7 linked regions of the Homo sapiens genome follow. The protein of the gene in region 1 interacts with the protein of each later gene in a pairwise test. Each region holds a gene or a part of one and is shown on either strand. Other genes may lie near its edges. The genes, in order: ZMYM6, SOD1, FLNA, BANP, ZNF76, ZBTB24 and LMNA.

Region 1 (3,500 bases):
ACTCTTTGTGTATGTATTGCAGAGAGGGAGGAGAAAATGGGACAAGTGGATGCTTACAATTCCATGCCAGGAGTCACTGTGTTTCTGACACAGGATGAGAGGAAGGGGTATGTGAATCCCATCAGGCTACTGTTCTTCACCATACCACCTACCCAAACCACAATCCTAGCTTCCATCTTTTTGAAGGGGAGAGACCCAAGGGAGAAAGTGGGAGGGAATGACAGTTTAGGCTAGGATCCTAAATAAAGAAGAAACTGCTGAGACCCAATATCTGGGTTCAGATATTTTGTAGAAATGACCTGGTTGGGCCCCTGGATGAAACAAATTTTTTTCTTTTTAATTCAAATTTAAACTTTCATAAGAACAGGCCTTCAGCAGTTAACACTGTGCCACAGATCGATGCCTAACAGAACCACATGCATAATGTGCTACCTTAGATCATACCTGGAAAGCAACCACACAACTGGAGCTGCAGAAGCTGTATATAGTTCCATTTGACATGGCTAGGTGATACTGAGGGATTGCTGAGGTTTTACAACTATGACATGAAACCTGGACACCTTGGTGACAAAAAATTAAAAACAATGATTAAGTTATACCAATGAACAAACAATACAAAAATGTATTGGGAGAATGAAAAAATTAAATAATCAATAATATACCAAAAAAATCAAGGAACTTTATAAAAATCTGAAATCTAACCACAACTAACCTCTATTAAGTCCCACTTACACAAAAACTAACTTGGAAATTTTAAGTGTTTTTTCTTTCCTCTCACATATGAAATTATAAAATACTGTATATATTGCAACCAAGAAAATCGGGGAAAAACTATTTTCACATAAAAGTCAGTTATTTAAAAGTCAGTCTTGGGTTTTTATTTAACTAAATAGATAAATTTAGCTTGTAACAAAATCAGAGAAAAGCAGTTACGTTTTTCTTCAATAGTTATTAAATCTATAAATTTATCAAATTTAAACATTACCTGAAGAAGTAACAGTCTTAACTCTGTAAGCAGATAAGCAATTAATAGAGCAGAAAAGCTCTGTTTTTCCTGAATCATTTGTAGTCTCAATCATTTCAGCTGAGGGCCTCAATGACTTCCCCAGGGCATATGGAGGAATTTGGGCAGAATTCTATTAAAATAAAATAACATTAGATACCTAGTACAAACATACATATTTACATATTGTTCAAAAAAGTAAAAAGAAAAGCTACCTACAACCACGGTCCTTGGTTGAAATATTTGAGCATGATGATGAAACCACACTATTGGGAGGTGGGAAAATAAGTTCTTCCAGACAACAATAAAATAGAAACTGAAGAAAATTAGTAACTATTCAGATAGAGATCTTAGCAAACAAAACACATGAATTCAAACACAAGTAATGAATTAAATAGTCATTACATACTTTTTAATCACCAATAACCAGAGAAGACCAGCTAACCCATGAACCAAAGGGTCATTCTTGGTATAGTCTTGTACATCAATCTAGAAGAGTCTACCACCTTTAAGGTTACTTAATTTGTGAGATTCTTTAGCAGGAGATAGAAATGATATTTAATGTATATTAATAGAGATCCTACACAACTACCTATTTTTCAAGCTGAGTTTCATAATAAAATCTGCTTATAAGTTTATTCATGTTTTAAGAAATAATAAAAATAGCTACCATTTACATAACCAATATTATAACTTACTGAATGCTTACCATGAGTCAGGCCCCAGGCTAAGAAATTTATATATAGTGTATCACAGAAACCTTTCAACAACAGAGTGAGGCGCTCTCAAAAATTACATTAACAAAAAGTTTAAATTAACAGATGAGCAGAAGAAGTAGGAAATTAAACTCATTTCATCAGGCTCCAAAGTTCAGGCTCCTAACCACTACACTATGCTGTCAGTGATACATTATAAGGTCTCTCAATATGAAAAGAAATTGTAGGAAAATATAAATTGTGAGGTTTCACTACATAATCTTCCTAGTAAAAAGACAGAGTACAATACTAGTAACAAAATTAGAAATGGAACTGATTTTGGGATCATATATAAAATAACATGGATTCTTTTCCTGTGAAAGTAGAACCAGACTGCCAAAAATGGCAAATCTTAAAAAAAGAGATTCTTTTCAGTGATGAATGTCCATATGTCCATTACCAACTGCTCAAAGGAAGCAACAAATCAAACTTGCTAACTGAAAAAAAGTTTAATTATCATTTACAAGATACATCTTTGTTTTTTTTTTTTGTTTGTTTGTTTGTTTTTGAGACAGTCTTGCTCTGTCACCCAGGCTGGACTGCAGTGGCACAATCTCAGCTCACTGCAACCTCCACCTCCCGGGTTCAAGCAATTCTCCTGCCTCAGCCTCCTGAGTAGCTGGGATTACAGGCGCCCGCCACCACGCCCAGCTAATTTTTGTATTTTCAGTACAGACAGGGTTTCACCATGTTGGTCAGGCTGGTCTCGAACCCCTGACCTCGTGATCCACCCGCCTTGACCTCCCAAAGTGCTGGGATTACAGGCGTGAGCCACCGCGCCGGCCTTACAAGATACTTCTTTAAGAAAAACTTTTTAAAACCACAAATTAGTAATAATTAAATTGACACAAGGTGATAATATTTAGTAACCGGCTTAATCCATTATTCATTACAATAAATAAAATTACTTGAAGTATTCTCATGAGACAGTGTTGACCAAATAATTACAATTCATTCCCAAACACATTTTGAAATGAAAAAGACAAGCTTTGTTTAGATTCACTGATTTTATCATCTTAACTCTTGCTTATGGTTTATTTATAATATGGTTTTCTTGCTATCAATACATCACAAAATATTTCATGCTCACAGAAAATCATGAAATTACATTTATGAGGCCGAGGTGTGGTTGCTCATGCCTGTAATCCCGGCACTTTGGGAGGCTGAGGCGAGTGGATGGCTTGAGCTCAGGAGTTCAACACCGGCCTGAGCAACATGGCAAAACCCTATCTCGATTTCAAAAAAAGAAAAGAAATCACATTTGTAAATTCTTAGCTATGAAGGGAGCCTTAAAAAAGGGACCTATTTTACCTATATCAACTTACCACCACAATCATCCCTCACACCATCAGAATCTATCCCATTTTCTGGAAGGGAAATCACATATCAGGATGGACTAATGGGAGGAGCTCACTCTCATTTTGTAGTTCATCCCTGTGCAGCCAAATCAGAAGGAGTGGGCCTAAGTACATGCAACAAATAGATATTCATACCTGCTTGTATGCCGTGACACTTGTTGAACTAAAAACCTTCTGGGATTGGCAAGGACCAGAGCTACTATAGCAATAGCTCCCACAGTTCTCACAACAGTTCATGGTGAGGTTGTTTGTAGAGTGAAATTTTGAAAAACAGGCATCACTACAAAGACCATGTACCACATTTTGATATTTAACTTCAAATCGAGTCTAGGAAATAAACACACACATACACACACAAAATAAGCAGAGCCAGTTAAAAAAAAA
Region 2 (3,369 bases), on another chromosome or scaffold:
AGGCAGAGGTTGCAGTGAGCTGAGATCGCACCACTGCACTCCAGCCTGGGCAACAGAGCAAGACTCCATCTCAAAAAAAAAAAAAAAAAAACCCCACCAAGTTCTAACTACTGTCTGACACTTGTAAAGTTAACACCCTTCTCTGGGCTTTGGCTTCTTCACTGTAAAAATAAGGGACCAGACTGATCTTCAACAGTTTTTCTATTATTAAAATCCCATGGTTATGATCCAAATTCTTAAGAACGTAGTATACTTTACAAAAAACTCATCTCCCCAGCAACATATGCCAAGCAGTTCTATCTGTGCCCTTTACTTGGTGCAGGCAGAATATTCAACAGCATCTTATGTGCAAGGGCCAAGGCTGCTGCCTTACACAACTCGAGGGGGCGGCATTCCAACTGTATCCTGTGTAGAAGGTGCTGCTGTGCACCAGGGGATGACATTCACAGAGCACAACCTCGACAGCACAGGAGGCCCTTTCATAACACGGCTGTCTTCAGCCACGCTCTCACCCGCAGGAGTCCCACACAGGGAGAAAGGCAGGCAAGTTACAGGAAGCAGCAGAGCAATCACCTCCCAGACCAGAGGCGGTAAAGCCAAAAAGCAACTCGGGGGAATTTCAGCAATTACAGAAATGGATCAAATCTGATCATTACAAATCACTATTTGAAACTAAATTAGCAAGATGAATAAAGTTAATTTAAGAAGAAATCTATAAACAAAAAAATCAGATTATTACTCAAATATGGCAAAAGATCACTAAATGCAACTTAACTCATAAACTTCTGTTAACTTGCTTCCAATCCCAAATTAAGAAAATAAAATTTGGCAGTTTCTCTGAACCTACTCTGGTTCAGGGGTTGCCTGATTTTTTAAAAATACTTTAAAAAAATTTTTTTTAAGCATATTCCAAAGTACCAATAATCCTCTGCATTCCATCTTCAGTTTGTATCATACTTTGGTCCCACTAAGAAGCCTGTGTTTGGGGTGTAGAGCTACTCTTACATGGCATTATGCAAATAAATGCAGCCCCTTTGCTCGAGGCACCCACCCTCAACCCCCAGCTCAAACACCTGGGATCATTACAAAAGTTAAGAGCCCAAGTTTTTATTTCCTATTTGCCTTCTTTAAAAAACACCCTCTTCTGGCTGGGTGCGGTGGCTCATGCCTGTAATCCCAGCACTTTGGGAGGCTGAGACAGGCGGATCACGAGGTCAGGAGAGAGACCATCTTGGCTAACACAGTGAAACCCCGTCTCTACTAAAAATACAAAAAATTAGCCAGGCGGGGTGGCGGGCACCTGTAGTCCCAGCTACTCAGGGGGCTGAGGCAGGAGAATGGCATGAACCCGGGAGGCGGAGCTTGCAGTGAGCCGAGATCGCGCCACTGCACTCCAGCCTGGGCCACAGAGTAAGACTCCGTCTCAAAAAACAAACAAACAAAAAAACACCCTCTTCTACAATGATGCTGTAAGACAAAACATCAACTCTTTCCCTTTCTTTTCCACACCTAGGTATCAAAGCCCAGTTTTGTGGCTAATCTTAAGGTTGATCTTCTTCTCTTTTTTTGGTTTCTAAAGACACACTACACCAAATCTTAAGACAAAGGGCACTGGACCTTCAGAAGCAGGTCCACCCCAGTCTTCACAATCTAGTGCAGTTACTTTTCTTGTGTGTACTCTGCTGGCATTATTACAAAAATCAGGATATGGTCCCAGTTCCTGCAATTTTAGCACAGTGCTTATATACAATAAAGTTGACCTCTTTTTTAAAAGAAAAGTTGAGGGTTTTCCCAGGCACAGTGGCTCACACATGTAATCCCAGCACTTTGGGAGGTCGAGGAGGATAGACCACTTGAGCCCAGCAGTTCAAGACCAGCCTGGGCAACATGATGAAACCCCACCTCTAGAAAAAAATACAAAAATTAGCCAGGCGTGGTGGTGTGTACCTGTAGTCCCAGCTACGGGCCAAGGCATGAGGATCAATGGAGCCTGGGAGGTCAAGGCTAAGGTCAGCCATGATCGCACAGCGCCACTGCACTCCAGCCTGAGCGACAGAGCAAGACCCTTTCTCAAAAACAAAAACAAGTTGAGGGGTTTTAACGTTTAGGGGCTACTCTACTGTTTATCTAACTAGGGTGAACAAGTATGGGTCACCAGCACAGCACAACACCCACCTGCTGTATTATCTCCAAACTCATGAACATGGAATCCATGCAGGCCTTCAGTCAGTCCTTTAATGCTTCCCCACACCTTCACTGGTCCATTACTTTCCTTTAAGAAAAGTGCAAAGTTGGAGAGAGTTTCTGAACAAAGAAAACAGCTGATTTACCTTTACCCCTCACAGTGAAGTAAAAAGCAGCCAGACTTGGGAGTGGAAAAATCTGTGTCCAAATCCCAGGCTGACCACTTTCTAGCCAGTGAACCTCCAGCAAGCTGCTTAACTGCTCTAGGCCTGTGTCCTCAAAAGGGAGATGGTAATCTTGTTCCCACACTCAATGCACAAGCACCCTGTGGCCAGGCTTCATGATTAAATAACATAAAAAGCACCTAATAGAGTGGCAAGCAAAGTGAGTACCTACACATCAGTGTTAGATACTTCATAGGCTTTGACTATTACAGTAAATAGGTAATGTAAGTACCTATTTATGTAGTAAATACTTTTGAATAGGTTATATTTGTACATGTTGAATATACATGTACATGTAAACGTTTTTTATTTTGAGACAAGAGTCTCGCTCTGTCGCCCAGGCTGGAGTGCAGTGGCATGATCTCAGCTCACTGCAAGCTCCGCCTCCCGGGTTCACGCCATTCTCCTGCCTCAGCCTTTTTAACCCAAAAGGTGTATGTCTCATCCTACACTCTGGAGCCCCTTGCTTTTTCTCCACGCACACCCTTTTCCATATGGCATACTCACTTGACTTTAAAAAAAAAAAAAGAAAAAGTCGCCCTGGAAATGTCCAACAGGCTACCCTGGGACCCCTGCTCTCCACTCCCCACTCAGTGAGTGTTTTTAAGTGTCCATCATAAGTTTTTTTCTTTTTTTTTTTGAGACGAGTCTCGCTCTGTCGCCCAGGCTGGAGTGCAGTGACATGATCTCGGCTCACTGCAAGCTCCGCCTCCCAGGTTCATGCCATTCTCCTGCCTCAGCCTCCTGAGTAGCTGGGACTACAGGCGCCCACCACCACACCCGGCTAATTTTTTTGCATTTTTAGTAGAGACGGGGTTTCACCGTGTTAGCCAGGATGGTCTCCATCTGCTGACCTCGTGATCCACCCGTCTCGGCCTCCCAAAGTGCTGGGATTACAGGCGTAAGCCACCACGCCCGGCTATCACAGGTATTTTTAATTAGCAGTCAGAAAATATTATAT
Region 3 (3,500 bases), on another chromosome or scaffold:
TATTTCCCTCCTCCCCTTTACTCTCACTTAAACAGGGTCAAGGTTGACAGTCTGTCTCAGGAAAAAAAAAAAAAAAAAAGGATTTAGGGCAGGTCTGGAGAAGATGGGGTACCTTTGGGGCCCTCAGAGAGCACAGTGGGTTCTACCCTTAGGGCCTCCCATACCCCAATTACCTTGCTAGGCTTGGTGGGGGCCACAGCTTCCAGAGGAAAGGGGCTGCCAGGCACGGGCACGCCGTCATAGGTCACCTCCACCTCATAGGGCCCTTCCTCACGGGGCAGGAAGCGCACCACACTGTTGTCAGCCCCCAGGCCTGGCTCCACCTTGCAGGGCACCGCTGCACCCGAGGGGCCCACAATCTTGGATGCCACTTTGCCTTGACCACCAGCACCCTTTGATTTGACTGTGAACTCCTGGTCTTTGCCAACGTCCACCTCTGTGGAAACGATGAAAGGAAGGAGAGAGACATGACACCCAGCTCAGCCAATCCCTGGATGTGACAAAGGCCTTTGCGACAAGGGCCCCAACTACTTACTCTCTCCCAGGCCAGACACCTTGATCTTGCTGAGGTCCAGGCTTGGAGATACTGCCACTGAGAAAGGGCTCTTAGGGATGGGATCCCCTCCATAAGTGACATTGACGCCTACTGGACCCTGGGAAGGGTGCAGAAGGGAAGGGGGTATTTAGAGACACCAGAATTGCTCCCCAACCCCCTCCTGGACCTCCATGCCTGTCCTCTCCCAGGTAAGGAATGAGAGTGGGCAGAAAGTCCCTCGGAGCTGTCCCCTAGGCTGCTGCATGAGGAGGCTGGGGACTCGGTGACTGTAGTGGAGGGTGTGGCTACCTGCTGGACAGGCGTGTACTTGACTGTGTAGGTGTTGTCATGGTGGTCGATGATGTCCACATCTCGCACTGCATCCCCCTTGGTGAGTCCTGAGAACTGGACGTCCAGCTTGCCTTTGCCAGCAGCTTTGGCATTTACTGTGAAGTGGGTGGGCTTGCCAAGCTCGACACCTGAGGAACACACAGGGACCATGTAGGGGCACCCTGCCCCAAGCCCTCCTACCCTTGATGCCCCGCAACCTGCCATGGGGTACCTGTCCTCACCAGTGCGACTGAGGCCAGGGCCCTCGGCCTTCACCTTACTGGCGTCATGAGAGGGCTCCACCTTGACTCGGATGGGGCTGGTGGGCGTGGCCTGCAGGCAGTGGGAGGAGAAGGCCTTAGAGGAGGGCAGACGTCATCCGCAATGACATCTTAGCGGCCAGGAGCGCAGCACCCACCTGGTCAGCAAAGAGGACCATAATGGTGTAGCTGCCAGCCCCCCGGGGCGTGTACTTGACCGTGAAGGTGTCATTGTCATTGCGGATGATGTCGAAGTCGATGTCAGCTTCGGCGGGGCCTACCACTCCAGGGGCACACTTGATGCCGATGCTGACGTCCCCTGCGGCGGGGAGAGGAGCGGAGGCTGAGACCTCGCAGGGACACCCCAGCCACCTGCCCTCCCACCCACAGCCAGGCCTTACCCTGGCCAGCCTCGGCGCAGTCCACAGTGAAGTAGGTGGGCTCGTGGGCCTTGAGCCCTGTCTTGGCTACTCCGGGGCCGTATACTTTGACCTTGTTGGGGTGGCTGCCAGCTCCCACATTCACCTGCAGGGCACAGGGGCAAGGGCAAGGGCATGAGCAGCCTGGAGGAGACTCAGAAGCTCCCTCAGCTACACTGGCAGGCACACAAAATGGTCCAGCTGCCTTGGGAAGAGTCTGGCAGTTCCTCAGTTGACCACAGAGGGACTGTGTGATGCTCCGGTTCACTCCGAGGCAACTACCCAAGAGAAATGAAAGCAAATGTCCACGCAAACACCTGGACTCACTGTTAACAGCACTGTTCATGATCACCAAAGGCAAGCTCATCCTCAATATCTGTTAGCAAGTGAACGGAAAAATGGAATGTGGTCTGGCCACACAATGGAGTATTATGCGGCCATAAAAATAAATGAAGCGGCCGGACGTGGTGGCTCATGCCTGTAATCCCAGCACTTTGGAAGGCCAAGGTGGGCGGACCACCTGGGGTCAGGCGGTTGAGACCAGTCTGACCAACATGGAGAAACCCCGTCTCTACTAAAAATACAAAATTAGCTGGGAATGGTGGCGTATGCCTGCAATCCCAGCTACTCAGGAGGCTGAGGCAGGAGAGAATTGCTTGAATCTGGCAGGCAGAGGTTGCAGTGAGCTGAGATCACGTCATTGCACTCCAGCCTGGCAATAAGAGCAAAACTCCGGCTCAAAAAAAAAAAACCAGGATGGGCGCGGTGGCTCATGCCTGTCATCCCAGCACTTTGGGAGGCCGAGGTGGGCAGATCACAAGGTCAGGAGATCGACACCATCCTGGCTAACACAGTGAAACCTTGTCTCTACTAAAAATACAAAAAATTAGCCGGGGGGGTGGCGGGCGCCTGTAGTCCCAGCTACCCGGGAGGCTGAGGCAAGACAATGGTGTGAACCTGGGAGAAAGAGCCTGCAGTGAGCCGAGATCGCGCCATTGCACTCCAGCCTGGGCGACAGTGTGAGACTCCATCTCAAATAAATAAATAAATAAACAAAATAATTATAAAGGAACAAAGTGCCAAGACATGCCAAACATGAACGAAAACACGGAAAACTTCGTGGTGAGCGAAAGAAGCCAGACACAAAAGGCCACATGGCACACAGTTCCATCTATAGAACATGTCCAGGATAGGCAAAGCCACAGCAGAAAGCAGGTTAGTGGTCACCAGGAGCTGTGGGACAGGGGAGTCAGGATGGTGTGCCACAACCACTTGAAATGGACGAATCGTGTGCTACGTGAATGCTATCGAGATGGACTAAAGGCCGGTGGAGGTTGGCTCACCCTGAAGGGGCTGTTGGGGATGCTGACGCCTCCCCAGGACACCATGGCTGTGTGCTTCACCGGCTTCCTGGGCACGTAGGAGCAGCTGTAAGTGCCATTGCCGTTGTCCTTGACCAACGCCTCCACAGGGCAGCCTTCATTGTCCTGTCAGGCAGATAGGAGCAGGTGGCCTGCTGGTCAGTGCCCAGGCCTGGGTGCCCACACCTGCCCTGCCCCCAACACCCGTGGGTGCTCTACCTGGACTTGGACCCGAAGTGGGGCCTTGCCACCGTGCTTGGCATCCACTGTGAACTCTGCTGGCTTGTTGACGGCCACACCTGTCTTCTCCAATCCAGGCCCACGTGCCTTCACCTAGCGGGAGACCACCCAGCTGTCAGGGGGCCAGGTCCAGGCTGCCAGAGCTACAACCCAGGCAGGGTGGCCAGGGACACAGAGTGCCATCCCCACCAGACCCCAAGCAGGAGCAGCAGGGCGAGACTTAGGCCATCACAGCCTGCTCTTTACCCTGTCTGGGTGGAAGTCCTGGGGCGCGTCACGGATGTCAGCCATGAAGGGGCTGAGGCGGATGTCTTCGCTGTTGCACAGCACGTGAACGGCATACTCGCCAGCCTCC
Region 4 (2,191 bases), on another chromosome or scaffold:
GGAAGGCACAGGAACCACAAAGGAAGAGCCAGGAGAAGCCACGAGCCCACGGCCGAGCCCACGGGAGGAAGAGGCCTGGCAACTTCTACTCTAGTTAAGGTCCTGCTTCATTTTATTTTTTAGAGATAGGGTCTTGCTCTGTTGCCCAGGTTGGAGTGCAGTAGTGCAAGCACACCTCACGGCCGCCTCGACCTCATGGGCCCAAGTGATCCTCCCACCTCAGCCTCCCAAGTAGCTGGGACCACCAGTGCACACCACCACGCCCGGCTAAATTTTTTTGAGACGGAGTCTCACTCTGTCACCTAGGCTGGAGCACAGTGGCGCAATCTCGACTCATTGCAACCTCCGCCTCCCGGGTTCAAGCAGTTCTCCTGCCTCAGCCTCCCGAGCAGCTGGGATTACAGGCACCTGCCACCATGCCTGGCTAATTTTTGTATTTTTAGTAGAGATGGGGTTTCACCAGGTTGAGCAGGCTGGTCTCGAACTCCTGACCTCAGGTGATTGGCCTGCCTCAGCCTCCCAAAATGCTGGGATTACAGGCGTGAGCTACCGTGCCCGGCCCCAGCTAATTTTTTTACGTTTTGTAGAGATGGGGGTCTCGCTACGTTGCCCAGGCTGGTCTTGAAGTCCTGGGCTCAAGCAACGCCCCTGCCTCGGCCTCACAAAGCACTGGGATTACAGGCATGAAACACTGCACCTGGTCCAGGTTGTGCTTTTTCAAGACAAATGTCAAATGACACTCGATATACTGTTCCCTGGATGGAGGAGGGGCCTTCCAGGGTAGGATGAGGGGTCAGTATGAGGACTGTCTCCTGCGAGCCCGGCCACAGCTGGGAAGGCCTAACGGGAAGGGGTGAACCTCAGCTGGAATGGAGGAGCCACACCAGGGCCCTGGGGTGGGTGGCTGAAGGCCATGGGAGGTTGGGGTAGGGGGGCCACCGCCTGGGATGCAAAGCCCCTTCCCCCAGACAGCTGGAAAGGCAGCTGGGGACTTGGGTGGGTGGGGACAGTGGGGCACAGGTCTGGGCTGGCTGGGACTCACTTGCCCTCCAAGGACAGTGGCCAGACCTGTGTTCTGGGCAGAGGCTGGTGGAGGTGCTGCCTCTGCTACAGATGGTTCAGGGAGCCTGTGACACCCACAGGCCACCGCGCATTAAGACAAGTGTCTTCCCCTGCAAATGGCACCCCCCTACCCTCCCAACCCACTGCTCCAGGGAACAGGCCCCACTCTCCACTTTGAGGATTGGCCACCCCCACAGGCCAGCTACCTGCCTTCCCTCCTAAGGGAACCCATCTTCTCAGAGCCAGGCCCTCACAGCTGAGCCACAGGTTTTCCTAGAACGAGCTCAAGCGCGTGACCCTGCTCTGACCCATGCAAGATGCAAGACCATTCCCAAGCATGACTGGGGTGGGGGCTTCATGTGGATAAGGAGGCTCAACCAGAAACCTGTCTCTGTTGGGTGCAGTCACGCCTGCAGAGTCACCATGAAGGCCTTCGGTCACTTCCCAGTGGGGCAGAGCTAGCCTGAGGACAAGCTGAGATGGTAAGGCAGAGAGCTGGGCCCTTGGTGACAAGCTAACGCACCCTGCAGTTGTCTGGCCTCAGATGGGCAAACCCGCTCACCACCAAGTCCAACCACGCTGGGGTTTTCTGCAGGGAAAGCGGCCCCTTAAGCACGCCGTCTTCCTTGGCTGTTACGATGGATCCTAATTAAATCATTCACCTGGGGCCTGCCAGGAGGGCATGGTAACAGAGAGAGCTTACAGGAAGCTAGGGGTGTAAACACCAACCATGGGACACAGGTTTGTTCAATTCTGAAATCGGAAAATGACCAGAAACTTATAATGCAGCAGGACGCCCTCAGGCATGGCCCCCACATCTAGTTTCCTGGGCGCGGACCTCACTGCCCTCCTGCAGCGCTCCTATCTGGAACGGCACGGGGGGCTGCCACGCGTCCTCGGCAGGGGCTGAGGCAGCCACGCCTGACTGTTCTTCACGGACAGGCCAAGGTTCACACCACATAAAATAAGCGCTGCCGAACGAGTTTGCCTTCACCATCCCACCCACCCGCTCCTCACTGCCTGTGCGTTCTGCGCCCATGGCCCTCACCGTGCTTCCAGCGCATCTCCAGTGAGGTCGGCGACAATGTGGAACCAAACACCACGCAGAGTACAGGGCGCGCCTCTGCGG
Region 5 (3,500 bases), on another chromosome or scaffold:
ATGTTAGAACATGAGTTGGAAGAGGCTGAGGCAGGAAGATCACTTGAGCCCAGGAGTTCGAGGTTACAGTGAACTGTGATGGAGCCACTGCACTCCAGCTGGGCGACAGAGTGATACTTTGTCTCTAAAAAAGGAAAGAAAAGAAAATGAATTGGAAACAGACAAAAGTTTATCTGAGGACATAAGTTATAAGGCTCCTTATAGTTGTCCAGAGGTGAAAGGTGAGACATGCCTGAAATAAGTACCTGGACTTTTAAGGGAAAAGGAGGACTCAAGCATGATCCCCCCCCCCCCCGCCCTGAAGTTCTGGGTGGAAGGCGATACCACCCCTGGGATAGGGGATACTGGAAGTACAATAGTTCTGGAAGGTTGGGACACATTGTGAGTTCTGTTGAGGACTTATTCCACGTGTGGTACATGTGGGATGTTCCCTGAGGATGGTTAACAAGCTCAGTAGATAAATGGGTCCGAGCACAGGAGAGATGTTGGAGTAGGCAGAGAGAACCATCAGCAGTGGGGTTAACTGCCTGCCTTCAGCAGGGCTCCTTCCTAAGGGGAGAAAGTTTAGAAATGGGTTTTGATCAGTGATTTCTTACTTTATGACCAGTTTGATTGGCATGCTTCTCTTCTATGCTTAACTTTTAGAATTCTTAGATAATGTGTATTTTGAGCCCTTTTCATAAAAACCAATATAGTTCACTACTTTGAAGAATTCATCTTTTTTCTTCTTGGCTGGCTGGCCTCATTAACTCCTTCCCTGAGTGTCTTTGCGATAGGAGAAAGCTGGTTAACTCATAATGTGATACTGTTTATTTTCTTAGATTTGTGACCCAGAAGGAAATCTCTGACCTCAGCTGTGGCTCTTGGTGCTGGCCAGAAGCCAACTTCATGTCTGAGTGCACGAGCAGCAGTTTGCCATGGAGAGCTTGGGGCTGCACACGGTGACCCTTAGTGATGGGACAACAGCCTACGTCCAGCAAGCTGTCAAAGGTAAGTATTTCTGGGGACCTCAGGATCCTGCCCTGTCCCTCAGCCTCTGGAAAGGAGTGTCCATTTCTAAGAGTCCCACCATCACCTTGCCCTCCCGCCTGCTTACCCTTGCCCACCACCACAATTTGCTCTGCATTAGAATCTCCTGTGGTGCTTGATGAAAAGGGAACTCTAAAATAAAATGCTACAAGTCAGACAATCCCAGTCATAGGAACCAATACCTCTCAAAGACAGAATTCCTAATATGTAATAAGCAGTTGATAAATATTTCTGGAATGAACACAGTGTTAGTTATGACTCCCTGCTTTTCAGATATCCCCTGTCACAGTTTTTTAGTGCTTTCTAGAAGCAGTTTATCATCTTAATTCAAGTATATTCAAACATTCAAACTACTAAGCATCTGCCATGTACAAGATGCTCTTTTAAGCCAGGCATAGTGGCTCATGTCTATAATCCCAGCACTCAGAAGGCTGAGATGGAAAGATCACTTGAGGCCGGGAGTTGGAGACCAGCCTGGGCAACATAGCAAGACTCTTGTCTCTAAAAAAAATAATAAAAATAATAATCTGGGTGCAGCAGCATGCACCTTTAGTCCCAGCTATTCAGGAGGCTGAGGCAGAAGGATCACTGAAACCCAGGAGTTTGAGGGTTCAGTGAACTATCACTGCACCACTGCACACCAGCCTGGGTGACAGAGCAAGATCCCATCTCTTAAAAAAAAAAAAAAAAAAAGATACTCTTCCTGATTCAGAGAGGAACACCCAAGCAGAGATCTCATGCCCTAATCCCCACTAGGGGATGCCAGAATTGAAAATATAGGACATGTAGTTAAATTTGAATTGGACGTAACAATGAATACTCTTGTAGGATACATACATCCCAAATGTTGTAGGGACGTATGTATACCACATACTAGGGACATACATATACCCCTTATAAGGGATAGACATATATAAATGTGGGATTAAGCTGGGCTTGGTGGCATGCACCTGTAGTCTCAGCTACTTGGGAGGTTCAGATGGGAGGATCTCTTGAGGCCATAAGTTTGAGGTCAGCCTAGACAACAGCAAGACCCCATCTAAAAAAAAAGTAGGGGGTGTTAAATACTATAAAATACTAAAATAATAATACCAAGTTCTAAAAAAAAAAAAAAAAGTATTGTTTATCTGAAATTCAGATTTACCTGGGCATCCTGTATTTTATCTGGCAATTCTATCCTTACACTGAAGGTACTTAAAATCAAGGTAGGTGTGGAGTCAGAATAAAGTGTTTAGGGCAAGGCCTGCAGGCCAGGGACACTTTTCCTTTCTTGCCAGTGTTCTCAGGCAGCCAGATAGCATTCGTGTCTTCCTTGGACAGCACCTTGAACAAGGCAAATACTGCCTTGTTCCTACTGTTCATTTGGCGTTTTCTGGACTCCATGATTGTCACTGTCCTCCTGAAGCACTGTCATTGCAACATTGCCCTCCTTTATTTCAACACACTCTCAGAATATATTTCTGCTCCTAAGTTTACAGATAAGTTGTTTATTGATTTCATTTTAAGTTGTCTGTTTCCTGATGATGACTAAGGAGTCCCCTTAATCTCATCAGTAAGCACTTTCCATATGACAGTGTGTGGGGGTCCCTTCTGGAAAGGTTTCTTGTCAAGAGCTGTCTGTGACATGTGGGTTCTTGTTGGCTTCATCTTCTTGAGAACGCAACTTCTCTAGAATGCTTTTGAAGCCTGAAACTCTCTGTTTGCAGACTTCCCACTCCAGGTCTTGCCCCTCCAGTGCAGTCTCCATGGGATGGAAGAACTTAGAACTCTAGCTAGGGTTGTGTTTACTCCTTGGACCCAGTTAGTTCCCGTGCCTCAGTCTTCCACTGAGAATTAATGGTCAAACAAATGAATAAAAAGCAAGTGACCACACCTGACCTGAGAGAGCCACTCTTTCCTTATATCTATCCTTCTTACGTATTTCTTTATTCTGTCAGTCTTCCTGGCTGTTCTTTGCCCACTCTGTAGTGTTGCAGTGTGCACTTACACACACACATATGCAAACACACACTCACTCACAACAGATTTTCCCTCTGCTCAGGGTAGAGCTCTCCTTCAGAGACCAGAACCACACTTTCCTGAAAGGCTTCTCTGACTTCTCCTCTGAAGCTTTTGACTGAGGCATTTTTGTCTCTGTCTGCTGGAAGCCCTAAAATTGTAAGAGACTTATCTTTAATTAGGATGAGTATAAAATGTATTATTCAAACCCAGCATTTTAAAAGTGGAAGAATGTGCTATTAATAAATGCACTAGGACTGTTCCAGGCAAACTGGGGCGTATGGTCACCTCTCTGTAATGGGATATGAGGCCCTTGTCAGTCAGCTGTTCTCCCCACTGCCTCTCTCCATTGTAGTCTCTGGTTGTTTGAGGAAATAGTAGGCTAAGTTTTTTCTTCAGACAACTCTTCTCAACATTTTGTTTTCTACCTTGAAGCAGTACCCACTCTGCTGGCCGTAGCTTGCTGATGCTTT
Region 6 (3,500 bases), on another chromosome or scaffold:
CCTTGTCCCAGCTGCCAAGATTCTGATTGACTTCACCTGGGCAGAGCCTGGGAATTGGTGTTTTTTAAAGTACCCCTCAACAGTTGTAGGGTGCACTCGGGCTGAAGTACTTTGAAGGCCACAGTAAAGATTGGATTTTATTCTGAGGGAGATGGCTTTACTGAGATGAGTGACATGGCATGACTTAGGGTTGTAATAGGGTCACTCTAGCCACCCTGTGAGGTGGGGGCGAGGCCAGGGTGGAGGCAGAGAGACCCATCAGGAGGCTGTGCAGTAGTGGGGCTCGGAACAGCACAGTAGCAGCAGAGGTGGTGTCAGGTGGTCCAGTTCTGGAGATAGTCCAGGGAAGAATTCATGTGATTCGCTCATGATTGGATGTGGGAGTTGAAAGAGGAGGCAAAAGCCACTGTGAGGAGGAAAAGCTAGGGAAGACTAAGAAGAACAGATCAGGAGTTAGATTGTGGACTGGTTGGTGTCTATTTGACATCCATGTGCAGGTGTGGGGTAGATCATTAGATTTCCAGGTCTGGAGAATTCGGGGGAGAGATGCAGCCAGAGCTCTGGATTTCCACAGGTGCACATGTGCCTGCAAATAGTGGGTGGCGCTGTGCTGAGTTCCCTAGGGAGACAGCGGTGGTGGAGGAGCGTGGAGCTGGCTTGGTCATGCTGAGCAGTGCCAGAAGAGGCACTTCCCCTTGGTTCTGTTGCCTGAGCATAAGGGGGAGTGAGGTTTCTGGGCTTTGTGAGTAGCAGTAGGACTTGAAGTGGGGATGAAAAGGAACAGAAGACCTCCCCCACTATAATTCCAGCAAACTCTTCTCAGCCTGTCAACTTTGAGAAGCAGAACAGAAAGTGGAAGATGTGTGATGAGTTAAAAAGGAGACAGACGGGCCTCTGTGGTTTGCATGACTTAGAAATATGAAAAGAAATTGAACCTATCAAAAAATTGGGGTTCTTCAAGAGCAGCAACTATGACCCATCTGTCCCTAGCATCAGCATGGAGAATCTGCTTGAATGTTGGTGAAGGGCATTGGCGTGCCATTTCCCTGCTCCCTGGGCATTCAGAGTGAGAAGTGCCAGTCCTACTCTCAGGGCCATGCTCAGCTGGAAACCAAGACTTCATCTCTTAGAGATGAGCTGTCATTCATCTCTTAGATCTTTAGGCACAAACTCTCTGGGTTAGATGTCCTGCACCAAGCACTGGAGAAGTCAAAGGCAAATTAGAGATGTTCCCTTTCCTAGGAGTGCATCCCCAGTGAGGGAGGTGAACACATTTTGACATGGAGGCAAAGTGTCAGGCAGACAAGCAGTACCTGCCAGGTCACCACATCTCAGGCCCTTCTGCTCACATCTTGTCCCCATACCTGGCACTGGTCAGGTTTACAGGGACCCAATCAAGCCAAATGAGTTCACAGGACAGATAAACCAGAGGATATATCAACTCAATAGAGGGATTACACCTTTCTGTTGCCCACAGCACCTCCTTCCTCACATTAGTGACCCGAAAGCCAAGTTAGTGATCAGAAGATTGCATGGTGAGCTGGGAACAAGTCAAGGGAATTAGCCCAGGTCACAGAGAAGCCTGGTGAGTGACCTCTGACCCCACAGCACAGTCCCACCCCGCCAGTGTCCCTGTTCCTGGATGGTGTTCCATAAACACTGATTCTGCCCTGAGGGTTCCTACTCACAGGTAGATGGCCCTGTCAGGGAACAAATGATAAAGTTCAGTAAGTCACAGTTCTGTTCACAGCCTCATTGTGGCTTGAAGTTGAAGCTTCCCAAATCTCTTCAACTGTGTGTTGAGACCATCCATTAACGTTGAGACCTGGGGGTCTTCCCATCTTCCTGAGACCTGGGGGCCCCTCACCATAACATGCCCTTACAGAGTCTACGTGCCATCTACTATGAAACAGTATGGCGTGGTCAGAGCCACAGCAGAGGTGTGAACACAGGACAGGAAACAGCTGAGAAGACCATATAGGAATGCCAAGTACACAGGTGTCAAACCATGCTATCCACAGTTATCATGGACATGTGTCCCTTTTTTGCCAAGATTGGCAAGTACATGAGGAAATGCACATCTTTATTTATTGTTGGTGGGAATATAATTTGGGAACCCCCTGGAAGGAACTTTTGCAATACTTACCAAAACATAAACTGCACAATTGTGAAAAGATGTTTGCCTAAGGATATTCATCATAGGCAGCATTGTTTATAACTTAACAAGCTTAACAGCCACCTGAATGTCCCAGGAGGGGATTAGATAGGTAAATTTGGGGCAGTACACACAATGGTACACAGCACAGGGTTTTAAAATGGTGGTGTGGCTTTACTGATGTGACAAACGGCATGCATTGGATGACCTCACACAGTAAGACCGCAAATAAACAGATTTGTCTGTAAAGATATTCGCCATTGTTAACTGGTTGTCTCAAGAGATGAGAATAGTGGAGCAGTTTTAATATTCTTTGTATTTTCAATATTTGATTCTTTTACAATGAACACAGTAATTTTTTAAGAAAAACAAAGCCGTGGTCCACAGTGGGAGGCAGGATGCTGAGGGGTCCACACGGACGGAACTGGACTGCCAGGTGAATGTGACAGCTGAGGGAATGGGAGGTGTCACTGTGATTGTTGTGCCTGGCTGGACAGGGGCTGGGTGATGTTGTCATTAACATGTCATGCCCCATGTTATTCTGGGTTTCAGCAGGTGGGCATGGGAAATCCAGCTGTGATGCCAATAAGCAGTGACTCATCGATCCTATCTGGAGTGGGGTCCGGGATTTAAGTCACTGGGGAAGGGTAGGGGTGGGATCGGTGGAGTAACTGCTGAGAAGAGGATCTGGAAGTACACCCTGGAGCTGTTTCAGTACTTCCGTTGACATCACCCTGGGTGGGTGGGATTGGTGTAGTAACTGCTGAGAAGAGGGTCTGGAAGTACACCCTGGAGCTGTTTCAGTACTTCTGTTGACATCACCCTGGGTGGAACCTTTCATCACACTCCTGTCTCTGCCTTTTCCTTTAATCGCTATTGTCTAATCCTCTTGTAACACACTTCTTTCCGGTCCCCATGCCTCTCAGGCCCTGTCCTATTACCTTATCCTTCTCCGTCTGCCTCCTGCCACCTCCTGGTCCAGGCCTTGTGCATAGCCTGTTAGAGGTCCTCCTGCCTCTAGCCCACCCTCCTCATCATTCCCAGGTGTATTTTCTTAGTACTTTCAGCATGTCATTCTGCTAAAAACTTCCAGAGGCTCCACAGGTCCCCTGCCTGGATTTCATAGCTCCTGTTGCCTTGGCCTCCTGACTCCTGACAGTGATCCTTGGTCACTGGTGCACACCGTGTAGTCATTTCTGACACCAGCTTCTGCTCATACTATTTAGACTAGTACCCTGGCCCAGGCTTCTTTCCAGTCTAGCCAGATCCTGCCCACCCCATCCAGCACCCTGTCTGCACTCAGAATTGTTGACGCCACTCGTTTTAATGTTCAGTGAAACACAGC
Region 7 (3,500 bases), about 120 Mb from region 1:
GATTGTCCCCGAAGCTGCCACCCCCACTGCCCCCCACACTGCGGTAGCTGCGAGTGACCGTGACACTGGAGGCAGAAGAGCCAGAGGAGATGGGTCCGCCCACCTGGGCTCCTGAGCCGCTGGCAGATGCCTTGTCGGCAGGCTGCCCGCAGGTCCCGCACAGCACGGTGCGCGAGCGCAGGTTGTACTCAGCGGGGTCCCCCGAGCTGCTGCAGTGGGAGCCCTGGGAAGGGAGACAAGGCTCAGGCGGGACGGCGAGTCTGGGACTGACCACTCAGGCCCAACCAGGCTCCAGGCTCCTGCAGGCTCCCAGCCGCCAGGCAGGAAGGTGTGGTTCTGTGCCCAAGGAGCCAGCGGGCAATGGGGGTTTGGGAGGCTAGGGGCCCGGAGGAGGAGAGGGAAGACATAAAAGGGGAGAAGGCTCAGGAAGACTTGGGGACAGAGAACCAGAGCAGTGACTCTGACTCTGTTCTAGCTACTCTGAGCTTAAGAGGAAAAGAAGAGAGAACGGGAGCAAGCTTGTAGGGCAGCAGGCATGCACTATTAATTGGAGTGGAGGGGCGGTCAGGAATGAGAGAGAACATTCTTGCAGGAAAAATGAGGGAAATGAGAGGATATGCATGCAACAAGAATGGGGGAGAGAGGCAGGGCGGGCATGCCCCACGTCTGTCCTCCCCTCCCTTTCCCAGAAGACAAATCCAGACCCTTGTCCACTGCTCCCACAGGAATATTCCATGGCATCAGAAAGTTCCCACTCCCTTCCTTACCAGAGTAGGGCACCCAGACACCTGGGTTCCCTGTTCAAGGTATAGGGAGGAGAGAGAAGAAAGGCCAGGCCAGCGAGTAAAGTTCCAAAACATTCTTTAATGAAAAGATTTTTGGCACGGGGAGGCTGGGGAGAGGCTGCCCCCAGGCCTGGCTGGGTGGCCCCAGTGCAGGCTCGGCCTCAGCGGCGGCTACCACTCACGTGGTGGTGATGGAGCAGGTCATCTCCATCCTCATCCTCGTCGTCCTCAACCACAGTCACTGAGCGCACCAGCTTGCGCATGGCCACTTCCTGGTGGGGACATGGAACCAGGTCCAAGGGTCAGGGCCAGGGAAGGGTTGTACAGCATGTCTACCCCAGTGACCACCTGCAACTTTTCTTGTGGCCTGCCCTTTGTCCGGCCTGCTGCTTACTCTGTCCTCTGTGGTGATGGAGCTAAGGAACTCATTTCCACCCCAGAGGGACACTGTCAAGCTCTCCGGGTAGGAGTATGGCTCTGCCTTTAACAATCCTCACTGTCTAACTTCCACCCCTTGTGCTGTTGAGGAAGCATCTTTTGGTTTGCCTACTGGGTGGAGAAGTCTGGAGCCTGCAACAGAGAGCTCTAGAAAGGGGCCCTGAATTGGCAAACTTGGGTTGGGGGCAGCTGGCTCCGATGTTGGCCATCAGGGGGAGCCTCGTCCAGCAAGCAGCCAGGCCCAGGCCTACTTACTTCCCCAGTGGAGTTGATGAGAGCCGTACGCAGGCTGTTCCCGCAGCCCCAGGTGTTCTGTGCCTTCCACACCAGGTCGGTAGGGGGGCTGTGGGTGGCCCCAGCTCCTGCAGCCCAGATCTGGAGAGGAGAAAAGGACACTTACCCCAGCGCTCCCATCGCCACCCAAGGCCTCCCCAGAGTCCCAAGCGCCCTGCCACTCACCGTCACCACCTGCCCAGCCTTCAGGGTGAACTTTGGTGGGAACCGGTAAGTCAGCAAGGGATCATCTCCATTCTGGCGCTTGATCTGCCAATTGCCCATGGACTGGTCCTGCCGGGAAGATAGGGAAGAGGAAGGTCGGGGAGGCTCACCCAGGCTCTTGGGTGTATCTTGCTCAAAGGCCCAGCCCTCTGCCTGCCTGCAATTGAGGCCTCTCCTTCCATCTACACACACCCCTGTCACTGCCCTTCCCCCGGGGATAATAGCCATGATCTGTGGACACATACGCAGCACCAGGCACACGGATACCTTATCTTTCATCTTCCTGACAACTCAAAGACTTAGGGATCAGTATTCATCCCCATTTTACAGATGAGGAAACTGATGCTCTGAGAGGTTAAATAACCTGCTCAAGGTCTCACAGCCAAAGAGTCCAGGAGCCAGGCCTGGAACCAGAGTGTGGAGGAGATATACAGGCTCACCCTGGTCCACCCTCTGAGGGCAAGGATGTTCCTCTCTCCACATGCCATCCTTCTGTCTTGCCACTCTCTCCCTGATGCAGCTGTATCCCCTTAGACCCTGAGCAGGAGCCTACCTCATTGGACTTGTTGCGCAGCCGGACAAACTTGCCCTCCTCATCCACCTCCTCCACGGCCACGCGCCCGCTAGTGCGTGCGTGCTGTGAGAAGCTGCTGCGGCTCTCAGTGGACTCCAGTTTGCGCTTTTTGGTGACGCTGCCCCCACCCTGTGTCTGGGATGAGTGAGAGGAAGCACGGCCACGGCTGCGCTGCGAGGTAGGGCTGGGGGACAGGCGTAGCCTGGGGAGAGGGAGACCAAGTGGGGGTCTAGTCAAGGCCAGTTGCCGGCCAGAGGACACTGCCAGCACCTCCCCGACGTCTCCCCAGCCCACCTCTCCTCCTCGCCCTCCAAGAGCTTGCGGTAGGCGTGGATCTCCATGTCCAGGGCCAGCTTGATGTCCAGAAGCTCCTGGTACTCGTCCAGCTGCTGCTGCATCCTTGCCCGCATCTCGGCCATCTCCCGCTCCTTTTCCGCCAGCAGCCGCCGGCTGGTGTCCCGCTCACGGGCCAGTGAGTCCTCCAGGTCTCGAAGCTTCGCCTCCTTGGCTGCCAGCTGAAGGGGGGTGGGAGGGTTTGGTGAGCTCCCAAGGGCCCTAAGTATGGGGAAGGAGGGACGTGGGTCGGTGTAGGAGACACCTGGCTACTCTCTCCAGGATCTGCAATCAGAGCTTCCCCAGAGCCCTCATCAGAGCCAGCTCTGAACATCACAAGCTCTAAACATAGTCTTGGCTGGCAACTGGGAAGTCCTTCCCCTTGTCTAACTGAAACCTCTCGTTCTGAGGCTAGACTTTTTCTCCTGTCACAAATAGCACAGCCAACTAGAAAAATACTGATGCTTTTAACACCTCACATTGCAGAGTCCTGTGGCAACTCTGAGTTAGGGAGATTAAGAACAGCCTCCATTTTCGAATGGGAAAACCAAAGCCCTGAGAAGTGAAGGTGAGGTAAGAGTGTACAGAAACAGCACACAGGCCATCTGACTCCACATCCTGCGACCCTTCTCTGTGGTTGTGGGGACACTTTTCATCCCTCTCCTCCTCAGGAACCTCCCACCCCCACCCCCACCCCCAACCCTGGGCTTCCAGCCTGCATCCGGCCCAGACTCTAGGCCCCTGGAGAGAGGGGTGAGGTGGGGTATCACCTGCTTCTGGAGCTGGCTGAGCTGGGCAGAGAGGCTGTCGATGCGGATGCGCGACTGCTGCAGCTCCTCGTGGGCAGCCCCCACCAGGTTGCTGTTCCTCTC

What was found.
Region 2: the proteins of ZMYM6 (region 1) and SOD1 interact in binary tests that used the Homo sapiens proteins (3 or more experiments, as listed by UniProt).
Region 3: the proteins of ZMYM6 (region 1) and FLNA interact in binary tests that used the Homo sapiens proteins (3 or more experiments, as listed by UniProt).
Region 4: the proteins of ZMYM6 (region 1) and BANP interact in binary tests that used the Homo sapiens proteins (3 or more experiments, as listed by UniProt).
Region 5: the proteins of ZMYM6 (region 1) and ZNF76 interact in binary tests that used the Homo sapiens proteins (3 or more experiments, as listed by UniProt).
Region 6: the proteins of ZMYM6 (region 1) and ZBTB24 interact in binary tests that used the Homo sapiens proteins (3 or more experiments, as listed by UniProt).
Region 7: the proteins of ZMYM6 (region 1) and LMNA interact in a two-hybrid assay, tested with the Homo sapiens proteins (one large-scale study listed by BioGRID).

The regions. Positions count from the first base shown.
Region 1 is NC_000001.11:35,011,446-35,014,945, forward strand, and holds part of ZMYM6 (zinc finger MYM-type protein 6), read right to left. Parts: intron 3,444-3,500; coding exon 3,252-3,443; intron 1,137-3,251; coding exon 986-1,136; intron 561-985; coding exon 445-560; intron 1-444. UniProt on the Homo sapiens protein: Plays a role in the regulation of cell morphology and cytoskeletal organization.
Region 2 is NC_000021.9:31,662,693-31,666,061, reverse strand, and holds part of SOD1 (superoxide dismutase [Cu-Zn]), read right to left. Parts: intron 2,273-3,369; coding exon 2,176-2,272; intron 1,757-2,175; exon of another isoform or gene 1,580-1,756; intron 1-1,579. UniProt on the Homo sapiens protein: Destroys radicals which are normally produced within the cells and which are toxic to biological systems.
Region 3 is NC_000023.11:154,361,135-154,364,634, forward strand, and holds part of FLNA (filamin-A), read right to left. Parts: coding exon 3,392-3,500; intron 3,239-3,391; coding exon 3,125-3,238; intron 3,032-3,124; coding exon 2,888-3,031; intron 1,651-2,887; coding exon 1,527-1,650; intron 1,445-1,526; coding exon 1,284-1,444; intron 1,199-1,283; coding exon 1,108-1,198; intron 1,015-1,107; coding exon 845-1,014; intron 654-844; coding exon 536-653; intron 437-535; coding exon 174-436; intron 1-173. UniProt on the Homo sapiens protein: Promotes orthogonal branching of actin filaments and links actin filaments to membrane glycoproteins. Anchors various transmembrane proteins to the actin cytoskeleton and serves as a scaffold for a wide range of cytoplasmic signaling proteins.
Region 4 is NC_000016.10:88,073,434-88,075,624, reverse strand, and holds part of BANP (protein BANP), read right to left. Parts: intron 1-2,191. UniProt on the Homo sapiens protein: Controls V(D)J recombination during T-cell development by repressing T-cell receptor (TCR) beta enhancer function. Binds to scaffold/matrix attachment region beta (S/MARbeta), an ATC-rich DNA sequence located upstream of the TCR beta enhancer.
Region 5 is NC_000006.12:35,280,235-35,283,734, forward strand, and holds part of ZNF76 (zinc finger protein 76), read left to right. Parts: intron 1-821; 5' UTR 822-917; coding exon 918-990; intron 991-3,500. UniProt on the Homo sapiens protein: May be involved in transcriptional regulation.
Region 6 is NC_000006.12:109,469,720-109,473,219, reverse strand, and holds part of ZBTB24 (zinc finger and BTB domain-containing protein 24), read left to right. Parts: intron 1-3,500. UniProt on the Homo sapiens protein: May be involved in BMP2-induced transcription.
Region 7 is NC_000001.11:156,135,211-156,138,710, reverse strand, and holds part of LMNA (lamin), read right to left. Parts: coding exon 3,399-3,500; intron 2,851-3,398; coding exon of another isoform or gene 2,811-2,850; coding exon 2,590-2,810; intron 2,498-2,589; coding exon 2,275-2,497; intron 1,791-2,274; coding exon 1,683-1,790; intron 1,599-1,682; coding exon 1,479-1,598; intron 1,058-1,478; coding exon 968-1,057; coding exon of another isoform or gene 947-967; exon of another isoform or gene 845-946; intron 224-844; coding exon 1-223.